2 separate regions of the Homo sapiens genome follow, and region 1 is linked to region 2. Evidence: fine-mapped expression QTL. A gene starts in region 2. The other region holds a variant in brackets. All regions are shown on one strand. Distances are between the middles of the regions. Region 1 overlaps USO1 (USO1 vesicle transport factor). Region 2 holds the start of ODAPH (odontogenesis associated phosphoprotein).

Region 1 (4,400 bases), 190 kb before region 2:
TCCCAGCACTTTGGGAGGCCAAGGCAGGCAGATCACCTGAGGTCAGGAGTTCAAGACCAGCCTGCCCAAAATGGTGAAACCTTGTCTCTACTAAAAATACAAAAAAGAGCTGGGTGTGATGGTGGGTGCCTGTAATCTCAGCTACTCGGGAGTCTGAGGCACGAGAACTGCTTGAACCTGAGAGGCGGAGGTTGCAGTGAGCCAAGATCACACCACTGCACTCTGGCCTGGGCGACAGAGTGAGACTCCGTCTCAAAATAATAATTATTATAGAATCAAAAAACAGCAGTGAATAAGCCAGCTGAAGTCTGATATCATGAATGAGCCATCATCCTTCCGTATCTCAGTATATACTCTGGGGTTTAGGAAAGTTAAAGGTCAAAGGAATAATACAGTCTGAAGAATTTATTGTGGTAACCCTGAGGCTGGTAATCCATTCATTTGTTCAACAAATACTAGAGTGCTGCCACACTTATGGGGGGGCCAAGAACAGTGCAACCTGAAGCAGTGGTTTATAATAAACTAACTTCAGAAATAGAGACTAAGCATTTAGAAACCTCTATAGACAATGGATACTTTTATGGCTGTTGGATCTAATAAAAAAAAGAAAAACAGGGGCGAGGCACAGTGGCTCATGCCTGTAATCCCAGCACTTTGGGAGGCCATGGCGGGCGGATCATGAGGTCAGGAGATCCAGACTATCCTGGCTAACACGGTGAAACCCCATCTCTACTAAAAATACAAAAAATTAGCCGGCCGTGGTGGCGGGCGCCTGTAGTCCCAGCTACTTGGGAGGCTGAGGCAGGAGAATGGCGTGAATCCAGGAGGCGGAGCTTGCAGTGAGCCAAGATCGCGCCACTGCACTCCAGCCTAGGTGACAGAGCGAGACTCTGTCTCAAAAAAAAGGGCTTGTATGTGATGTCATTTTTTCTAGTAATTGATTTTTATTGTATTTTATAACAAAATGTATTTACTGGCCTATGATGAAATTTGAAAAACAAACTAAAAAATCAACTGGTCCTTCACTACAGACAGTCTGGGAAACACCGTTCAAGTACTTAACATTTTGCAAGGCACTGGTCTACGCTGGGAAAATAGCAGAGAACCAGTACAGAAGGTACCTATTCTAATGAAACTATAATGGCAAAGAGACAGAATATATTAAAAACAAGTAAGACAAACACAGAAAGTGAGGGAAGTGAGACCGTGACTGAGTGAAGGTGCTACTTTGGACAGCACAGCCAGGCAGAGGGGCCTTAGAGAAACACAATTTTGGATACAGATGGAAGTGTGAGTAAGGGTAACAAGAATGAAGCAAAAAGAAGAGTAGGAAAACCGACTCAATGAGTATGTTACCATCAGAAGGAAAAACAATTTAATTGTACAGTTAAAAGATAACACTTATTCGGCCAGGCATGGTGGCTCACGCTTGTAATCCCAGCACTTTGGGAGGCCGACACGGGTGGATCACGAGGTCAGGAGATCGTGACCATCCTGGCTAACACGGTGAAACCCTGTCTCTACTAAAAATACAAGAAAATTAGCCAGGCATGGTGGTGGGTGCCTGTAGTCCCAGCCACTCGGGAGGCTGAGGCAGGAGAATGGCTTGAACCCGGGAGGTGGAGCCTGCAGTGAGCCGAGATCGTGCCACTGCACTCCAGCCTGGGCAACTGAGCGAGACTCTGTCTCAAAAAAAAAAAAAAAAAGATATGCTTATTCACTTTCCCAGATGGGATCCTGAAGCAGGCTTTGTTGCTGGAACCTCATTCTCTTGGAAACCGACCAAAGAAGACGATTAGTAGTTTTAAGCAAAATTCATAAACTCACTGGTCATCTGAAGTCACAAACTCTTATCTTAGTTCTCAACACTCTCATCTACATGATAGGAAAGTTGGGAAGGATGTAAAACATTTAGATATCAGATTTTAATGTAATCTAGCACCTTATCAATTAGTGATCAAAAGAGGGAGTTACAACACAGAAGAAATTGATCCACTCTATTTTCATGAGAAAGTCAGAAATGTTTGCCCCTAGGCCTTTTAACAAAGTATTTCTTATCTCAGCATACTACCAAGGCACACATTTCAACCATTCTGTACTTGAAACAAGTAACTTTTCCAAAATTTCACCATCTGAATAACACATATGTAAATACAGTGAAGATAGGTAAGATTACAGAATAGAAAAGTGTTAACAAGAAACAAATGCCTCAGCCTATTTGTTTGAAACAAATCTCCAAAACCCACTGTTAAAAATTTTAAAATACGCATGGCCTACGTAACGACATTCAAGTCAACAATGGACCACTGCACAGACGTCCCATATGATGATAATGGAAATGCAAAATTCCTATCACCTACCGATGTCCTAGCCTTAGCACAACACATTACTCATGTGTTTGTGGTGATGCTGGTGTAAACAAACCCACTGCACTGCCAGGCTTATGAAAGTATGGCACAGACAATTGTGTACAGTA[C/AGTAC]ATAATACTTGATAACAGTAACAAATGACTGTTACTTGTTTATGTATTTACTATATTATACTTTTAATGGTTATGTTAGAGTGTACTTCTACTCACAAAAAATAAAAGTTAACTGTAAAACAGCCTCAGGCAGGTCCTTCAAGAAGTATTCCAGAAGAAGGCATTATTATTATAGGAGTTGACAGCTCTATTGCATGTTACTGCCCCTGAAGACCTTCCAGTGGAACAAGAGATGAGGGTAGAAGACAGTGATATTGATGACCCTGCCCTGTGTAGGCCTAGGCTAACAGGTGTTTGTGTCTTAGTTTTTAACAAAAAAGTGGCCGGGCATGGTAGCTCACGCCTATAATCCCAGCACTTTGGGAGGCCGAATCACCTGAGGTCAGGAGTTCAACACCAGCCTGGCCAACATGGTGAAACCCCATCTCTACAAAAATGGAAAAATTAGCCAGGCATGATGGCAGGTGCCTGTAATCCCAGCTACTCGAGAGGCTGAGGCGGGAGAATTACTTGAGCTTGGGAGGCGGAGGTTGCAGTGAGCCGATATTGCGCCATTGCACTTCAGCCTGGCTGACAGAGCGAGACTGTCTCAAAAAAAAAAAAAAAAAAAAAAAGTTTAAAAAGTAAAAATTTTAAAATAGGAAAAAGCTTATAGAAGAAGGATATAGAAGAAAAATATCGTACAATGTGTTTGTGTTTTAAACTAAGCATTATTACAGAAAGCTTTAAAAAAAGTTTAAAACTTTATGAAGTTAAAAAGTTATAGTAAACTAAGGTCAATTACTGAAGAAAATTTTAAAAAATGAATTTAGTGTAGCCTTAAGTGTATAGTGTTTATAAAGTATACTTTACATAATGTCCTTGGTCTTCACATTCATTCACCACTCACTCACTTGACTCATCCAGAGCAACTTCTGGTCCTGCAAGCTCTATTCATGATTAAGCGACCTATATAGGCATACTATTTACTATCTTTTATGCCACATTTTACTGTAGATGCATAGATACACAAATATTTACCATTGTTATAATTGCCTACAGTATTCATTACAGTAACACGCTGTACAGGTTTATGGCCCAAGAGCAATAGGCTACACCATACAGCCTAGGTGAATAGTAGGCTATACTATCTAGGTTTGCTTTAAGTACACTCTAGGATGTTTGCACAACAAAACTGCCTAATAATGCATTTCTCAGAATTTAGCCCCGACACTGAGCTACCAAGAACTATCACAGTTACAGATTTTTATAAAGAAACTCATTTGTGTAAATATATATATTGGTAAATACAAAAGACAACACTGTAGAAGGATGTACACCAAACTTTACTAGAGATTACTTCGAGTGATGCGAAGTAAGACTGTGAAGGAAGAAAGAGGCAATTTTAGACTACATACTGATTTGGATTATTTACAGCAAGCATATTTCCATTATTGCTTCAATAAATAAAGAGAAAAAAATTAAAGAAATTTCCATATTAGATCTTGCTTTTATTACCTACTCTAAAATACCACCTGATTGACTATTCACCTGGTTTATGAATATAACTGTTTGTTGCTATTTACAGTAGCTATGTTTTATAAAGTTACCATGAAAACTGAATTAGTGAATACTAAACCACTGCTCCTAGGCCAGGCGCAGTAGCTCATGTCTGTAATCTCAGAGTTCTGGGAGGCCGAAAAGGAGGACTGCTTGAAGCCAGGAATTTGTGATCAGCCTGGGCAACACAGCTAGATCCTGTCTTTATAAGAAATTTAAAAATTAACCAGGCATGTTGGCGAGTGCCTGTAGTCCTAGCTACTCAGGAGGCTGAGGCAGGAGGATCACTTGAGCCCAGTAGTTTGAGACTGCAGTGAGCCACAGTCGTGCCACTGAACTCCAGACTGGGTAACAGAGTGAGACTCCATCTCTAAAAACAAAACCC
Region 2 (4,400 bases):
GCTGTGGTTGCTGCCGTGCATCAGTGAGAAGAGGATGAGTATGGAGATCCACACATGACCTTGTCGGGCAGACCCAGGGTGTGTGTGAACGAGCGATGAACTGGAAGCAGGGGCTGCTGGGATAGAATGAAGCTACATTTGAAGGACTTCGAGGGATTGTAGGGAAAAGTGAGCCAAATTCGGAAATCAAATCTGGTGTTTCAATGGGTGTTTTGTTTTTTGAGACAGAGTTTCACTCTTGTTCCCCAGGCTGGAGTGCAATGGCACGATCTTGGCTCATGGCAACCTCCACCTCCTGGGTTCAAGCGATTCTCCTGCCTCAGCCTCCCGAGTAGCTGGGATTACAGGCATGCACCACCACACCTGGCTAATTTTGTATTTTTTGTAGAGATGGGGTTTCTCCATGTTGGTCAGGCTGGTTTTGAACTCCCGACCTCAGGTGATCTGCCCACCTCGGCCTCCCAAAATGCTGGGATTACAGGTGTGAGCCACTGTACCCAGCCTCAGTGGGTGTTTTTAAGATGTGAATAAAATAAATCTCTAATCTCATTATAACTTGTTTAGCTATGTGTTTACAAAGCCTCCTGAAGAGCGGTTCACTTTTTGCAGAGAAAGTGGCAGGTGGCTAGTTTTGTTTTATGATGCTTCTTTTAGATGTCACTTTTAGTAGGTGAGGCTTGGGGGCCTTGCCTTGGGATATGGGGGCAGGTTTTGTTCATAATCTATGCCCTGTCCCCTGATTGCCAGAGTGTGTGCAGAGGTTGGATCAGGGGGTTTCTGAGTGTTCCACAACCAGCTCTTATGTCTCTCCCCTCCTCCTGTCTATTGTGAGCTCTGAGGGATGGGAACGGGGAATCTGTCTGGGGATGAGCAGGGTTTGGCTGAGCCCCTGCAAAGCCCCCTACCCAAGACATGTGAAAGGGGTGAAGTGCTCTGTTTGACTCCTAGGTCCATCTTCCGTAAACAGCATCTAGTTTTGGAATTAAAATAAACTGAAGAAAAGGTTAGATCTAGGCTCCCCAAGATTTCCTCCCCTTGTATTTCCCTCTTTTCATCCCTTCCCCAGCCTTTTCTTTCCTTTTCCTAGGGGTTTGCAAACCAATTGTAAGGCTCAGGACACATTTTGTAGTGGGAACAAAGAAAGAGAATAGGAACAGTTGAGAAATGGAATCTAATAAAATCCTAAAGAAAGAAACCTGTGCCCACCTCTGTGGCACCAAAATGCAGCTCAATAGATGTGATTAATTAAAGCAATGAACAAAGACTAAATACCCACCATGTGCAAATTAATATGCTGCTGGAGATAGAAAGTGGACAGTGCTGTAATTCAAAGTGGAATTGTTAGCTTTGTAACCATAATAACTAGTATTTGTACAGTGTTTTTAGCTTGAAGAGTTTTTCACAGATGATAGCTCATTTGGTCCTTGCAAACCCCATAACGATGGATATTGTTAATGTTGTCACTTCACATATGAGGAATCTGATACTCAGAGATTTTAAGTGTGTCTAAAGTCACAGAGCTATTGCTGAGACGAGGACCAAGGTCTTCAGGTGACAAAATCCAACTTCCTTCTCTTTAACCACACAGGCTGATGGAAGCTGAGGTAAATATTTCCAATTTATGGGAACGTATAATCATGGAGCCAGTTTTGTCTTTTCCTACAACTTATTAATTAGTGGACCCACAGTAGAATAAAAGCAAAACCCTTACCTTCTGCCACAGTTACCACCAACCAGCATACCAGTAACCAGTAGGAGAAGCAGTGTCTGCGAGCCATGGCTTCTACTGAGCAGTCACTGCGTTGAACCTGATGTTGCTTTAAAGGGGAGCTGGTGAGTCACCAGCAGCCTGATTCAGGTAATTTGCATTTGCACAGTGGACCACAGAGATCAGGGCTTGCGGTGTGAGGGTAAGAAATCAGCAAGGAAATACCAGACAGTATTTGTCAACCAGAAGCTTCTTGGAATGACAGCCAGATATCAATCATCTCCCCCCAGAGGGGGATTTTGGACAACCGCACCTTCACCATCCTTCTAATCTCTCAAATCTTCTCCCATGTTAGTGCCTTTTAGTTGTGTATATCAGTCTTCCTCTGCAAGAGAAATAAGCTGTCCAGAAATATGCAACAGTGCTTCTCTCTGTGCAGCTTACCTACTTAAAAAGCGAAACAAGAGGGAGAGGGCATTACCCGGAGGCTTCCTGACCCCGGTGGTTTGCAGTGGAGAGTTGGGGATCATTCTTAGGCCCCCAACCAGGGTTTATGCTGCTTCTCTGCTCTGCTTTTGTCCAGGAGGTGAGGGCAGCAGAATCAGAAAGTGATCTTCCCTAGTGGTCATGATGGTCACTGTCTAAACAAACATAAACATTGGGAGAGTAACTTAGTGAGTCGTCCTTTCACGGCTCCTCCTGATTCACCATATTGCATATAAAATGGACATGACATGTCTATGTCCAGTTGGTTTCCTGAGAGAAAGACTTCATCAGCTGCTGGATATATGAGAGGGGATTGTCACAGGTGATTAAGAACATGGACCTTGGAGTCAGGTAAAATTCCAGTCTTTGTTCCTTTTCTTACTAGCTGAGTGACTGTGGTGAGTCCCTGAGACTTGCTGAAGCCTCAGGGGCCTCACCTGTAAAATGGGACTTGTGGTACTACCCTCAGAGGAATTTGTGAATTAAGGAGATGCTTTTAAAAAAAATTTTTTTTAAATTTCAATCTTTTGGGGTACGAGTGGTTTTGGGTTACATGGATGGACTCTATGGTGGCGAACTCTGAGATTTTAGTGCACTCGTCACCCGAGCAGTGTACACTGCACCCAATATGTAGTCTTTTATCCCTCACCTCCTTCCCAACCTCCCCCACCCCTAGCCTCTAAAGTCCATTATATCATTCTGTATGTCTTTGTGTCCTCATAGCTCAGCTCCCACGTATAAGTGAGAACATACGATATTTGGTTTTCCATTCCTGAGTTACTTAACTTGGAATAATGGCCTCCAGCTCCATCCAAGTTGCTGCAAAAGACATTATTTCATTTTTTTATGGCTGAGTAGTATTCCATGGTGTATTTCTACCACATTTTCTTTATCCACTCGTTGGTCGATGGCCACTTAGTTGGTTTCATATCAAGGAGATAATTGACATACAGCTCCAACCACAGTGCCTGGCCTGTGAAAGGGAGTGTTTGTGATTGTCATTAAATTATAATAATCCCAACTGATAATTTATTCTCTTAGGAGGCTGTACTTGCCAAATCAGTTAATCACTGGAAAGACCTCCACTTTAAGCAGAACATTTTCCTGGGTATCATGGAAAAAAAAAAAAAAAAAAAAAAAGAACAAACTAAACATGGTCCCTGTCTTTGAAGGACTGACAATCTAACAAGAGAGGCTGTGCAAACTGAAAGTCTAAATGAATAAGGATGCAAACACTCACAGATAGAAAATGGAAAGTTCCTCAGGCTTGATGTTAGTCCTAGGCAAACTTCCAGAACAGATAATCAGATGGATGATTTGTCAGCAGTTTGAAAAGGAATCAGGAAACATCCAGGACAAATTGAGTTCCTTAGACTACCCATTCATTCAATAATTCTGTATTGACTTTTATTTATTCAGTGTCAGACACTGGTCAAGGTGCTGGGGCTAAAGATAAGATTCCTGCTCTCATGGAACTTATAGTTTAGGAGACATTAAAAATTAACTCAGGAATAACAATAAAGCGTTTTGAGTGCTAAGAGAGGGGAAGGACTGAAGGCTATGGGAGAACGAAGCAGACAAACACAGTCTGTAATTTTACATCAACGGGTCAGTATCACATATGCTACTTTGTCCCCTGCATTGTAAATACACCACAATGCCAATAGAATTAGATTCACATAATCACTTCAGCCACTGCCTGGTGTTTCATTTTATAGATTTACTGTAATTTATTTAACCAAACTTTTAACTGATGGACATTTCTATTACTTCTTCTGATTCTCTTTCTTTTTTGTTTTGGAGTGCTAATGAGCTTTCATCTTAAATGTTGATGAAAATAAATAACAAAAGCAAAATAACTTATTTTTTCATTCAAATCTGTTGTTCTGAAGTTTATAAAATAAAGGAACAAAATTTTAAAAGGAATACATTTTTTTTTCTTTTGAGATGGAGTGTCATTCTGTTGCCCAGGCTGGAGTGCAGTGGCACCATTTGGCTCACGGCAACCTCTGCTTCCTGGGCTCAAGCAATTCTCTTGCTTCAGCCTCCCGAGTAGCTGGGATTACAGGGCTACTCAGGAGGCTGAGGCATGAGGGTGTGCCACCACACCCAGCTAATTTTTTTGTATTTTTGGTAGAGACGGGATTTCACCATTTTGGCTAGGCTGGTCTCGAATGCCTGACCTCAGGTGATCTGCCCACCTCGA

Evidence for each region. PIP is the estimated chance that this variant, and not a neighbour inherited with it, causes the effect. A credible set is the group of variants that fine-mapping cannot tell apart.
Region 1: its variant is the best candidate, but not a certain one, in a credible set for the expression of ODAPH in prefrontal cortex (CommonMind, PIP 0.67).

Annotation. Positions count from the first base shown.
Region 1 is chr4:75,740,292-75,744,691 of GRCh38, reverse strand. The region is part of intron 1 of USO1 (USO1 vesicle transport factor); the gene reads right to left. Among named protein-coding and RNA genes, the nearest start is that of USO1, 18 kb to the right of the region's middle. The variant C/AGTAC (reference allele first, on the strand shown) is at 2,477.
Region 2 is chr4:75,553,461-75,557,860 of GRCh38, reverse strand. ODAPH (odontogenesis associated phosphoprotein) reads right to left here and starts at 1,795. Exons shown (of 2, transcript NM_178497.5): 1 at 1,712-1,795. The coding sequence starts at 1,778. RefSeq lists a silencer at 1,768-2,062.